Regions from separate parts of the Homo sapiens genome. Here region 1 is linked to region 2. Evidence: fine-mapped expression QTL. A gene starts in region 2. The other region holds a variant in brackets. All regions are shown on one strand. Distances are from middle to middle. Region 1 has its middle 28 kb from the start of BLACE. Region 2 holds the start of INSIG1-DT (INSIG1 divergent transcript).

Region 1 (5,479 bases), 41 kb before region 2:
CTTGCTAACAAATATTAAAGAGGCAGATGGTAAAGAATGGTTTAGAAAAATGTCAAGGTTACTACTTTAAAAGTACAGAGAGCTTTCACATCACGAAAGATGATACGAACAAAATAACAGCCCTCCATAGCTTTCTCCCGCTGCCTCACAAAATACCGCAGACTGGGTGGCTTGAACCACAGACACTTATTCCTCAGGCTCTGGAGGTTGGAGGCCTGAGGGGTGGGTGCCAGCATGGCTGGGCTCTCGCGAGGCCCCTCTTCCAGGCTCACAGAAGGCCACCTTCTTGCCCTGCCCTCCTCAGTGGCCTTTCTTGGTGCCAGCATCGGAGGAGAGAATGAGCGAGCTCTCTGGTGTCCCTTGTTATGAGAGCACTAATCTCGTGGGATCAGGGCCCACCCTTATGGCCTCGTGTAACCTTAATGGCTGCCTTACTTCACGTACAGCCATACCGGGGTTTGAGGCTCCAGCATGGGAATTTTGGGGCCTCGCCAACATTCAGTCCATGGGAGGCCCCTAGGACGAAATGCTGGGCTTGAAGGAAACTGCATAAAGCAAAACAGAGACATCTCGGAGCAAGGGAGCTGGGGACCCACAGCCACACAAGGGAGCCGGGGAAACCACAGCCACGCAGACCATTGGTGTTTCTTGTTGTGATCAAGAGACAGAGTTTTTAAAGCAATGTTACACATAAACATCAAAACAATATTGAACTTCCAGGGAAGAGAATGGGTTAAGTGGGTTAGAATTTCCAAGATGTTAGGGGCTGAATTGTGTCTCCATAAATCCAAAGGATGAAGTCCTAACCCCTAAGACCTCAGAAGGTGACCTTATAGGGAGATAGGGTCTTTACAGAGGTCATCAAGTTAAGATGAAGTTGTTAGGGTGAGCCCTAGTCCAGTATGACTGGTGTCCTTAAACATGGGGGACATTGGACACAGACACCCACAGGGAGAGCCCTGCGGGAAGGTAAAAATAGCTGTCTGCAAGCCCCGGGGGGAGGCCACAGAATGTGGCTGTATTTGGAGCTAGAGCCATTCAAGAGGAAATTAAGGTCAAATGGGTTCACTGGGGTGGACCCTAATCCCATAGGACTGGTGTCCTTAGAAGAAGAGGAGATAAGGACACAGACACACAGAGGCATGACCATGTGAGGACCCAGGGAGATGGCATCTGACTGCAAGCCACAGAGAGAGGCCTCGGGAGAAAACAGCCCTGCCCAACCTTGATCTTGGACTTCCAGCCTCCAGAACTGAGAGGAGATACGTTTGTGATGTCTGAGCCCCCTGCATGTGGTGCGTTGCTAGGGAGTGTTTGAAAGCTCTTTCACCACGTCACAGCAGGTGGGTCTCAGGCTCTTGGTTTTCACTGTGTCACAGCAGGTGGGTCTCAGGCTCTTGGTTTTCACTGTGTCACAGCAGGTGGGTCTCAGGCTCTTGGTTTTCACTGTGTCACAGCAGGTGGATCTCAGGCTCTTGGTTTTCACTGTGTCACAGCAGGTGGGTCTCAGGCTCTTGGTTTTCACTGTGTCACAGCAGGTGGGTCTCAGGCTCTTGGTTTTCACTGTGTCACAGCAGGTGGGTCTCAGGCTCTTGGTTTTCACTGTGTCACAGCAGGTGGGTCTCAGGCTCTTGGTTTTCACTGTGTCACAGCAGGTGGGTCTCAGGCTCTTGGTTTTCACTGTGTCACAGCAGGTGGGTCTCAGGCTCTTGGTTTTCACTGTGTCAAAGCAGGTGGGTCTCAGGCTCTTGGTTTTCACTGTGTCAAAGCAGGTGGTTCGCAGGCTCTTGGTTTTCACCATGTCAAAGTGGGTGGGTCTCAGGCCCCTATTTTGCTGTTTTGTGGATTTTTATGTGTGCTAATACATGGAAGAGACCTAAACATACTTTTAGGCTGTGAGGAAGAAGCCAGCAGACAAGGGTAGCCTAAAATACTGGTGAGATGAACCCCATGTGGTCCATCTGCATGGCAGAGGGGTGCTCAGCCACGGGACCCAACCCACGCTGTGCAGCAGAGGAGTGCTCAGCCACGGGACCCGACCCACGCTATACGGCAGAGGAGTGCTCAGCCACGGGGAGGGACCTGAACCACGCTACAGCAGGAGTGAGCTCAGAGGACATGACCCAGTCACGGA[A/G]GGGCAAGTATTGAATGATCCCACTCATGGCAGGTCCCTAGAGTTGTCACATTCACAGAAACAGAAGGTAGAATGGTGGGTGCTGGGGCTGGGGAGGCAGAGTGGGGAGTTACTGCTTAGTGGGTGTCGTTTCCATTTAGGAGATGGAAGAAAGTTCTGGAGGCAGATGGTGGGGAAGAATGCACATTTCTGTGAATGGATTTTGTGCCCTTGAACGGTGCATTCGAAGCTGGTCAATTCTCTGTTAGATACGCTTCACCACAGCCGCAGGAAAGTGACACCAAATGCTGGTGACAGAGTGACACTCCCAGAGCATCCTAGGCAGAGTGGGCACCAAGAAAGGCAGTGAGTTCCCTGTCCCCGTCAGGAAGCAAGGAGGCCGTTCTGCACAGCGGGGTGCTGGACACAGACCTCCGCAACCTCTTCCATCCCTGGGGTCCTGTGGTTCTGTGCCTCACACTGTCCCGTGTGCCTCACACGGGACAGTGGGCCAAGCCAGTCAAACAGATCAGACACAGGCCTGTGCCAGGTGTGTGGCCACAGGCTCAGAGGAAAGAAGACCCTGCGGTCCAGGGATGGGTGTCTGCTGCCACGCATGACAGGGTCCCCTGGAAGTGGACAGGGCTCTGGGCTGCAGCCACAGGCCAGGGTTGGGGCAGCATCCAGCGGACTCTCCTCTCCGTTGTGACCTGGGAAAGCAGGCGTCACAGCCTTTAACCCGCTGCCTCGGGCCAGTATGTCTGCTGGCTCCCTTCTCCGCTGCTCTTCTCCTTCTCTGCCCCCTTCTCCCATCGGGCCCTGTCGCTTTGAAAGGCTATGGACAGTCCCTTTGCTGGGAACGAGGCCCCACAGGCAGACGCCATATTCACAGATGCCTTCTTGGGCCCATTGTGGTCTCCTGAATTGGCTGAGTCTCAAGGCCTTTGATGAAAAGGTAGCTGGAGCAAGCGGCTAAAATAGCAGTCAGTGGCAGCCCCAGAGCGGGGTCTGAAGCTGGAGTGCATGATGGGCGCTTAGCTGTGGGCTTAGAGGGTGGGTGCGGGCTGGTGTGTGCCTGGGCAGCTGGGCGGGGTGTCTCCCCTGACATGGGACAGGCCAGCTGGCCCCACTGCGGCGCGCAGCAGGCCTGGATCCAGCAGTTCCCGTGGGAAGAAGGGGCTGAGGAGGGCCCCTCTGGGTCAGCCCAGGAGGACTCCGGCCGGGTCACACCTCCAGAAGGGACCCGCTTTCTCCAGGCCCCAGAGGCTGCTGAACAGCCTACCCCCTCCCTGGGCTGCCCTGGGCAAGAGCAGCCCTCACCCGTGACAGACGCGCCTGGCTTCCCCGTGTGTCTTGGGAGGCGGGAGGTGATGCTGACCCTCGCTCGGGAGGCGGGAGGTGATGCTGACTCTCGCTCGTTCTTTTGTTGTCCTTATGGTCATCACCGTGGGAAAGACCTACTCGTGGGAGAATAAAGAATCTGCTCCCAACCCCACTCCTGAAATTTAATTTTAAAAAACGTACTCAGGATAAAACCCTTCTTGCTGTCTGAGAGGATGTGGCTTCTCCAAGCACAGCCTGCCGAGGCTCTGTTTGCTGTGTGGGGAAGATGAGCCCGTGCTCGAGGCCGCCCCAGAGATGGAAGCCAGACTGAGCCGGGACTGAGTCTGGTGGCAGCCAGGCTTGGGGGCAAAGACCACCTGGTCTCATTTCTAGTCCCTGGGGCCCCAGGAAAATCCCAAAGGGAGCCAGGGGGCACAGCCATAGCATTCGCTTGCACCTTGTGACATAGCAGTAAGTGTACTTCCTGCAGGGGAAGCCCATGAGAAAGGAAGAAGAAAGAGAGTAAATGAAAGCCACAGAAAGAAAAACTGCAAGGGGGGTGACAGTCCGGGGGTGGCACAGCAAACCACAGCCAGACGGGGGCTGACAACCACAGAGGCATGGCTTCTCACTGTTCAGGGGGCCAAGAGGCCAGCACCAAGGTCTTGGTGAGAGGTGGTTCCCCCTTGGGGGGGCTCTGAGGGCCAATCTTCTCTGTGCTTCTGTCCTGGCCGGATCCCCTGCACGCGCCTCTGTCCCGGCCGCTGGCCGCCCTGCACGCGCTTCTGTCCCGGCTCCAGGCCTCCGTAAATGCACCTCTGTCCCAGCTGCTGACCTCCCTGCACGCGCCTCTGTCCTGGCTCCAGGCCTCCGTACACGCGCCTCTGTCCCGGCCGCTGGCCTTCCTGCACGCGCCTCTGTGGTGGCTGTTGGCCTCCCTGCACACGCCTCTGTGCCTGCCTCTGGCCTCCGTAAATGTGCCTCTGTCCCAGCCGCTGGCCTCCCTGCACGCGCCTCTGTGCCTGCCTCTGGCCTCCGTAAATGAGTCTCTGTCCTGGCCACTGGCCCCCCTGCATGTGCCTCTGTCCCGGCCACTGACCGCGGTATACGTGCCTCTGTCCCGGCCGCTGGCCTCCCTGCATGCGCCTCTGTCTTGGCCGCTGGCCTCCCTGCACGTGCCTCTGCGCCTGCCTCTGGCCTCCGTAAATGTGCCTCTGTCCCGGCCGCTGGCCTTCCTGCATGCGCCTCTGTCTTGGCCGCTGGCCTCCCTGCACGTGCCTCTGTGCCTGCCTCTGGCCTCCGTAAATGTGCCTCTGTCCCAGCCGCTGGCCTCCCTGCATGCTCCTCTGTGCCCGCCTCTGGCCTCCGTAAATGAGTCTCTGTCCTGGCCACCGGCCCTCCTACATGTGCCTCTGTCCCGGCCGCTGGCCTCCCTGCACGCGCCTCTCTCCCGGCTGCTGGCCTTGCCACATTGCTTGGCGTTCCTTGGTTTGCAGCTCTGTAACTCCCCTCTCCTTAGCCACCGTCACATGGCTGGCATCCCTCTGTGTGTCTGTCTCTGTGTGGCATCCCCTCTCCGTGTGTCTCTCTTCTAAGATTGCTGGCATACTGTGCAAACACCCTTCTACTCCATGTGACCTCATCTTAACTAACTGTGTCTGCAAGGACCTTCTTTCCACACAAAGCCACTTTCTCAGGTGCCAGGAGTTAGGTTTTCAAAAAACCTTTTAGGGGGACACAATTCCACCCCAAAAGAAAGAAAGAGAAGACAAGAAACAGCATAAAAAAGAAAGAAAAGAAAAATGAGGGCAAGGGATGCATTCGGTGTGAAATTTCAGCCCAGGACTTTTGGGGTGTATAAGGAGAGATAGAATCTAGTTCTAGGTGGGTCCTTCCTGGGGGCCCTCTATGCTCTACCCCCTCAGGAGCACACTTTGGGTTGCTGAGTGAGCAGAACTGGCCACTGGCAAGCCCGGCCCTCCCCCCTCGGGCCCTGGGAGCCACATATATAAATACAGCCTGTGCCCAGTAAGATACAAGAAA
Region 2 (5,215 bases):
CTCTTAAATTTGTGGGGTTCTCCGAGGTGACTGTCGATACAGGGGTACAGTAGGCCAACAACAGCTGTTTTAAAAAAGTTGACAATGTTAGAATACAGCAGATTCAAGTTCCAGAATTTCAACGTGGTCATTAGTAACACAGTACATTACTCAAACCAGTCCTTTTCCTAGAAAAAATTATCAGCTATAACTTCAGAGTGATTTTATATTCTTGTTCTCTTTGAGTACCACTCCCACAAAATTGTACTGTTTGGAAAAGTTTTTTAAAAATCACTATTATTTAGTGTAGTTGAACATGTCTCAGTAAACACAGGAAGGAATCAAGCAGGGATTATTCATATTAATATGAGCAATATGTAACCTTATATTTAATATCCACATTTGCCTAAAGCACACAGAACTTAAATGACTATGTAGTTCACCTTGTCTTTTCATCCGGTGTGATTTCTATCTTACAATAAAAAGGTTAGCATCTGTCCACACCCTGTCACATCACAGCTCTGACACTCCTGCCACCACCCAGTACTGGGGCTGGGCACGTGATGAGATACATATTTGCTGATGTGACTTTGACAGTCTGGGTCACATGCTCCTAGAGTGGCCCTGGAGTTGATTTTCGGGGGTTCTAGCATGTTCTGTACGAGGCACTGAGCACCTACTGTGCACACATGCACATGGGCAAGTACGGGGCGAGACAGCCCCACACAGGCTTCGCTTATTCTCCATCTGGTTCCCGCATGGTCAAGCCTCAAGCTGCGGAAAGAACACCAGACCAAGAAGAGAAAACTCAGCCTCAAATCCCAGCTTGCCCTCTGATGGGACGTGGCTCTGCATGTTTGTTTTCTCATGTGTAAAATTATAAGGATTATGTAACTGGGACACAGAGAAAGAGATCACTGTGGTCTGGAATAGTTATTCTTTATAGACACGAACTTGGAATTTGGACAGGTGGGAAGGAATGGCATTCCAAAAGAGAAGTAAAATGGCAAAGATGAAGGCAGGAATGAATGTCTGTAGGGGGGAGTGGGGTGCCGGCCCGTGGGGTTGGATGCTGGGACACAAGGGTCACTGTGTCCCAGGGCTCTTGAGAACCCTGCAATTGTTTCACCTCAGTGTAGTATGAAAGAAATATACATTTTAGGTTCAACTGAGAAACAAGAAACACAGTTTGCATCAAACATTCAGATAAAAAATGTTGTTTTCAATTTATTATACTTCATCAGGTTCTAATTTTGGAGTTCTGAAAAATGGACCCCCCAAATTAACTTTACTTCACTATAGCTTAATAAATAAATAGGTAAAAAACATACTATGAAAAATTTTACTTATGCTCTTGGCTGATGGTTTAAAAAAAAGTAGAATATGAGAGTATGAGAAATTGTCCAGATATTCCTAGAAACCCTTGAGGATCCAATTACAAATACTGAAGGCTAAACTATTTCATTTCTAAGATCAAGTTTTTGGTTAAAGGAAAGAAACTATTCTGCCAAATGTATATGAAACATGGAATTTTAAATCTAGATATAGTTCTCAAAAAATGTTCAATTAGTACAGCCACATAAAGTGTTTCGAAAAACGAAAGAGGATCCCGTCCCTCCGAGAACAAATATGAAAACATTCTACCCACTACTTAATAATTACAGACACCTGTCCTAGTTCTTCAACACGGAGCCCTCTGTTAATCTGCTACAAACCTCTCTGCTGCTTGCTGTTTTCAGTGAGTCAACTGAGGCAATGTGTTTCCACAGTGCAGGAGACACACCTACCAAGGCAGCAGGAGCAGTTACCAACGATGGCTTGGCCCCTTTCTACCTGCGCACCCTTGGATGTGACTTCACCTGTGATTCAGTTGCCACATCTATAAATGAAGCTACACATGGTATTGCTGTAAGGAATGAACACAGCAAAGCATCTGAAGCCTATGGTCAGCAGTCAGCTGACAAACGTCAGCCACAAAGCAAACAGGATGCTCCCTGCACTGCACTGGAGTCACTGACATACTGGTTTGTTTTCCCCACCAGACTCTAAGCTGCTTAAGGATAGGGGCTTGTGGTGCTCACTTTTGGATTAACATTTCAACAGCTTATAGAGTTGAGGTTGCAGAAAGCACCCGACAAGCTCGTTAAATAAACAAATGCTGTGTGACTACAGGAGCAGTAAGTGATCTGCTGAGCCAAGATCAACTCAACATTTCTATAAAAGCGGTTCAATGATAGCCAAGAAAGTCTAGTACACACACCCAGCAGTCCCCGTGTCCACAGTTCAGACTGACTCAGTGTTACGTTGTACAGCATCTATGCTACTGCTTGGGTGTACGAAAATCTAAACGCCGTAAGGGGGTTACTCTTTTCCTTAAGAACGTAATCTACAGAGCTCTAACAGTTCAGGGTGTAGGCGGTTTGGCTTCAGACCACAGTTTACTCAGCGACCCGGCAAAAGGAAGTGCTGAGAAGTTGCTCCCCTGGCAACCGCCTCCTGAACCCATGTGACGGGTTTGTTTTCAGTTATCCAGCAGGGTAGCATGTTTGCTGCCGCGACCAATGGCCTTTCAGTCCCGCTGCTCACCAGTTCCCCAGGCGGCCAATCCGGGGCGGCTGGCGCGGGATGACAGCTGGGGCTGTACCCGGACGCCAGGAGGGAAGGGCCCTCAGTCAGCTTGGCACAGCACCTGCTTGAACAGCCAATTATCTCCCTGCCTCATCTCCATCACTGTGCTTCCTCAAACTTCAGAGAGCTGTGGCCCGAACCCGCCCTCGGGGGTGCCAGGTCCTCTCTACCCCTCCTTCATTTCTCTAAATCCCAAGACTGGAGATGCACACTTTCAATCTGTGGATAGTTCCAGTTTCAAATGCATGTTTCTTATAGGCTGAAAAGTACTTTCAACCGAAAAGACACCCTTTTTACTTCCAGAAGAACCAGGAGGGGTACTCACCAGCTGCTGTCCCGCAGCAGGGAGGGACCCACCAGGCGGAGGAAAAGATGGTGGCGATCACCTCCTCGGGGAAGAGAGTGACATTCCTCTGGATCTGCAGCAGGTTGAGCACCAGGGCTAGGACCACCCCAACCGAGAAGAGCACGAGGCTCCTCTGCAACAGGCGATGATGCCAGGTGTTGGGGTAGGGGCTGCCGGGCTCGGGGCCGCTCATCGCAGCACTGCGGCCCCTGGGCGCGGGGTCAGCGTCCGGGGCACCGTGGGCCGCCAGCAGGGAGGGCCCGGACACGGAAACGTTGATCATCTCCCCAACCTTGGCCGCCAGCCCCGCGGCGCTGGCTCGCGGGGGGCCTCGGCGCCTCGCGCTGTGCGCACAGGAGCAGCTCCAGAAGTGGTCGTGCAATCTGGGCATCGGTCACACGCGTCCAAGAGGCGCTTCCTGGAAGAAGGGGGTCATCAAGTTCACTCAGAAGAGACAAAGAGCGAGGAAGGCCCCGCGGGACGCGAACCCCGGCACCCGGGCCAGGCGGCAGCGCCGCCCCCCAAGGTTAGACCCCCGTGCGCCCGCCCGGGGCCAGCGGCGGACGGGACCCGCGCTCACAGCGAGCAGCATCCCCGGCCCCAGCGGGACCCGCGTCCCAAAGACCCAACAGGGCCCGCGCCCGCCTACCTCCGGGGAGGACCGGCTGCTGCGCGACCAAAGCCCGCCCGCGACCCCTATCCCAGCCGGCCGCGTACCTGGCCGAGAGGCGCCCGCCCGCCGGCTCTCCGAACGGAGGCGGGGCGGGGGAAAGGAGGAGTCACGGCCCGGGACGGCCGCAGCGCCTGGCGGGCGCGCGGGTTTATATGGCGGGCCGCGGGGCCCGCATCACGTGAGCCTGCCCGGCCTACCCACCGCCCGCGCGCACCGCCCAGGGGCGTGGCCTGAGCTTGCCCCGCCCCGCCCGCGAGCCCGTCCGCACGCGGTCTGGTGAGGCGGCCGCAACCAATGGGAGGCCGGCGGCCCATATGACGTGCGCACACGCCACCGCCGGCCCGCGCGCACTCGGGCGGGAGCCTCGGCACGGACTGCGGGGCGCGTGGCGGCTGCGGGGCACGCGGGCCCGAGCGGGACTGGCCGGCTGCGAGTGGGCGGCCGCGGAGCTGGGGCCTGGGAGGGGACGGTCCTGCCGGGAGGAGGCGGAGGCAGGACAGGGTGGGGTTGCGGGCCCGGCGCCGCCCCTCCCGGCTCCTGGCTCCCCTCGCCTGGTGTCCCGCGCCTGGCCGGGAGGCGGCGGGTCTCGATCGCGCGGGCCTCCCTGGAGGGGCGCGGGCTCTGGCGGCGGGGAGGCCCCTGCTCAGCGCAATGGCGGGCTTGCATCCTTGGGTGATTTTTTCGGGCCCCTTGTGGCCTTTGCTCACGCCTAGAGAGCAAACCACCCGCACCACCCAGGAGCAGATAAAATCGAGACCACAGCCTCCAAGGGAGCGCGCCTCCATCCTGTTTGCCCCTCGGGTCGCCGTCTGAGGGCGGGCCCGTGCCCGCTCAGAGCCTACATCCGAGTCGTATAAAGCGCTGACAGCAGAGAAAGCTGCGGCTTTGCTCCGTGCAGATGAGCAGGGGCTGAGGGAGGACGCTGTGCTCTCAGTAGCCGCGCTTGGCCCGGGGACCCTGCAGGCTTAGAAACGTGAGTCACGCCTGCAGCGTGGCGAGGAAACGCCGTTGATGTGGCATCCTCAGCCTGGGGTTGTGGCTTTAAGCCAGAAGGTCAAAAAAAGAAGTCTTCCTGAGCTGAGACTGCCCTGAGTCGCTTTAGGGGCGAAATTCCGAGCATCCGGTTGCATTTCCTGAGGATGACACGCGTGGTGGGTGTGGACGGCCTACAGGGGTCCATCCTCAGCGGCCCCTCTGCAGGGCAGTCTCGCTCTCACTCTCCCAGCTGACTCCTCTCAAGCCTGTTAACCATTGTACACGTTCCCAAGGACTCCAAGCAGGTTGGACTTCAGGGAACATTGCAGTTTGGGTCTTGGCCATTGTTTACACTCCACCTTGCATAAGTGCTTGAGGATCACACAACCAGATACGTAGATCATCCGTAGATCATCGCAGTCACATCGAAGATTTGTTTATAATAGGAAAAAAAAAAGCTACCCACTGTCATGCGCTGGGAAACTAGTGAGCTGAAGGATGACCCATCTGTAAATGGGGTGCTCCCTAATGGACAGGGCACCTTTCAGAAGCCTGTGCTGTGTCTCCTCGACCCCACTGTGAGCTCCCCGTCCCGCACGCTGATCTAAATCAAG

What was found. PIP is the estimated chance that this variant, and not a neighbour inherited with it, causes the effect.
Region 1: its variant is fine-mapped to the expression of INSIG1-DT in whole blood (TOPMed, PIP 0.99).

The regions. Positions count from the first base shown.
Region 1 is chr7:155,337,492-155,342,970 of GRCh38, reverse strand. No RefSeq gene overlaps it. Among named protein-coding and RNA genes, the nearest start is that of BLACE, 28 kb to the left of the region's middle. The variant A/G (reference allele first, on the strand shown) is at 2,135.
Region 2 is chr7:155,296,415-155,301,629 of GRCh38, reverse strand. INSIG1-DT (INSIG1 divergent transcript) reads left to right here and starts at 2,650. Exons shown (of 2, transcript NR_183448.1): 1 at 2,650-3,479. It overlaps INSIG1 (insulin induced gene 1), which reads right to left and starts at 3,752. Exons shown (of 6, transcript NM_005542.6): 1 at 3,671-3,752; 2 at 2,933-3,371; 3 at 1-64. The coding sequence starts at 3,344. RefSeq lists enhancers at 2,227-2,296, 4,707-4,756 and a silencer at 3,417-4,246.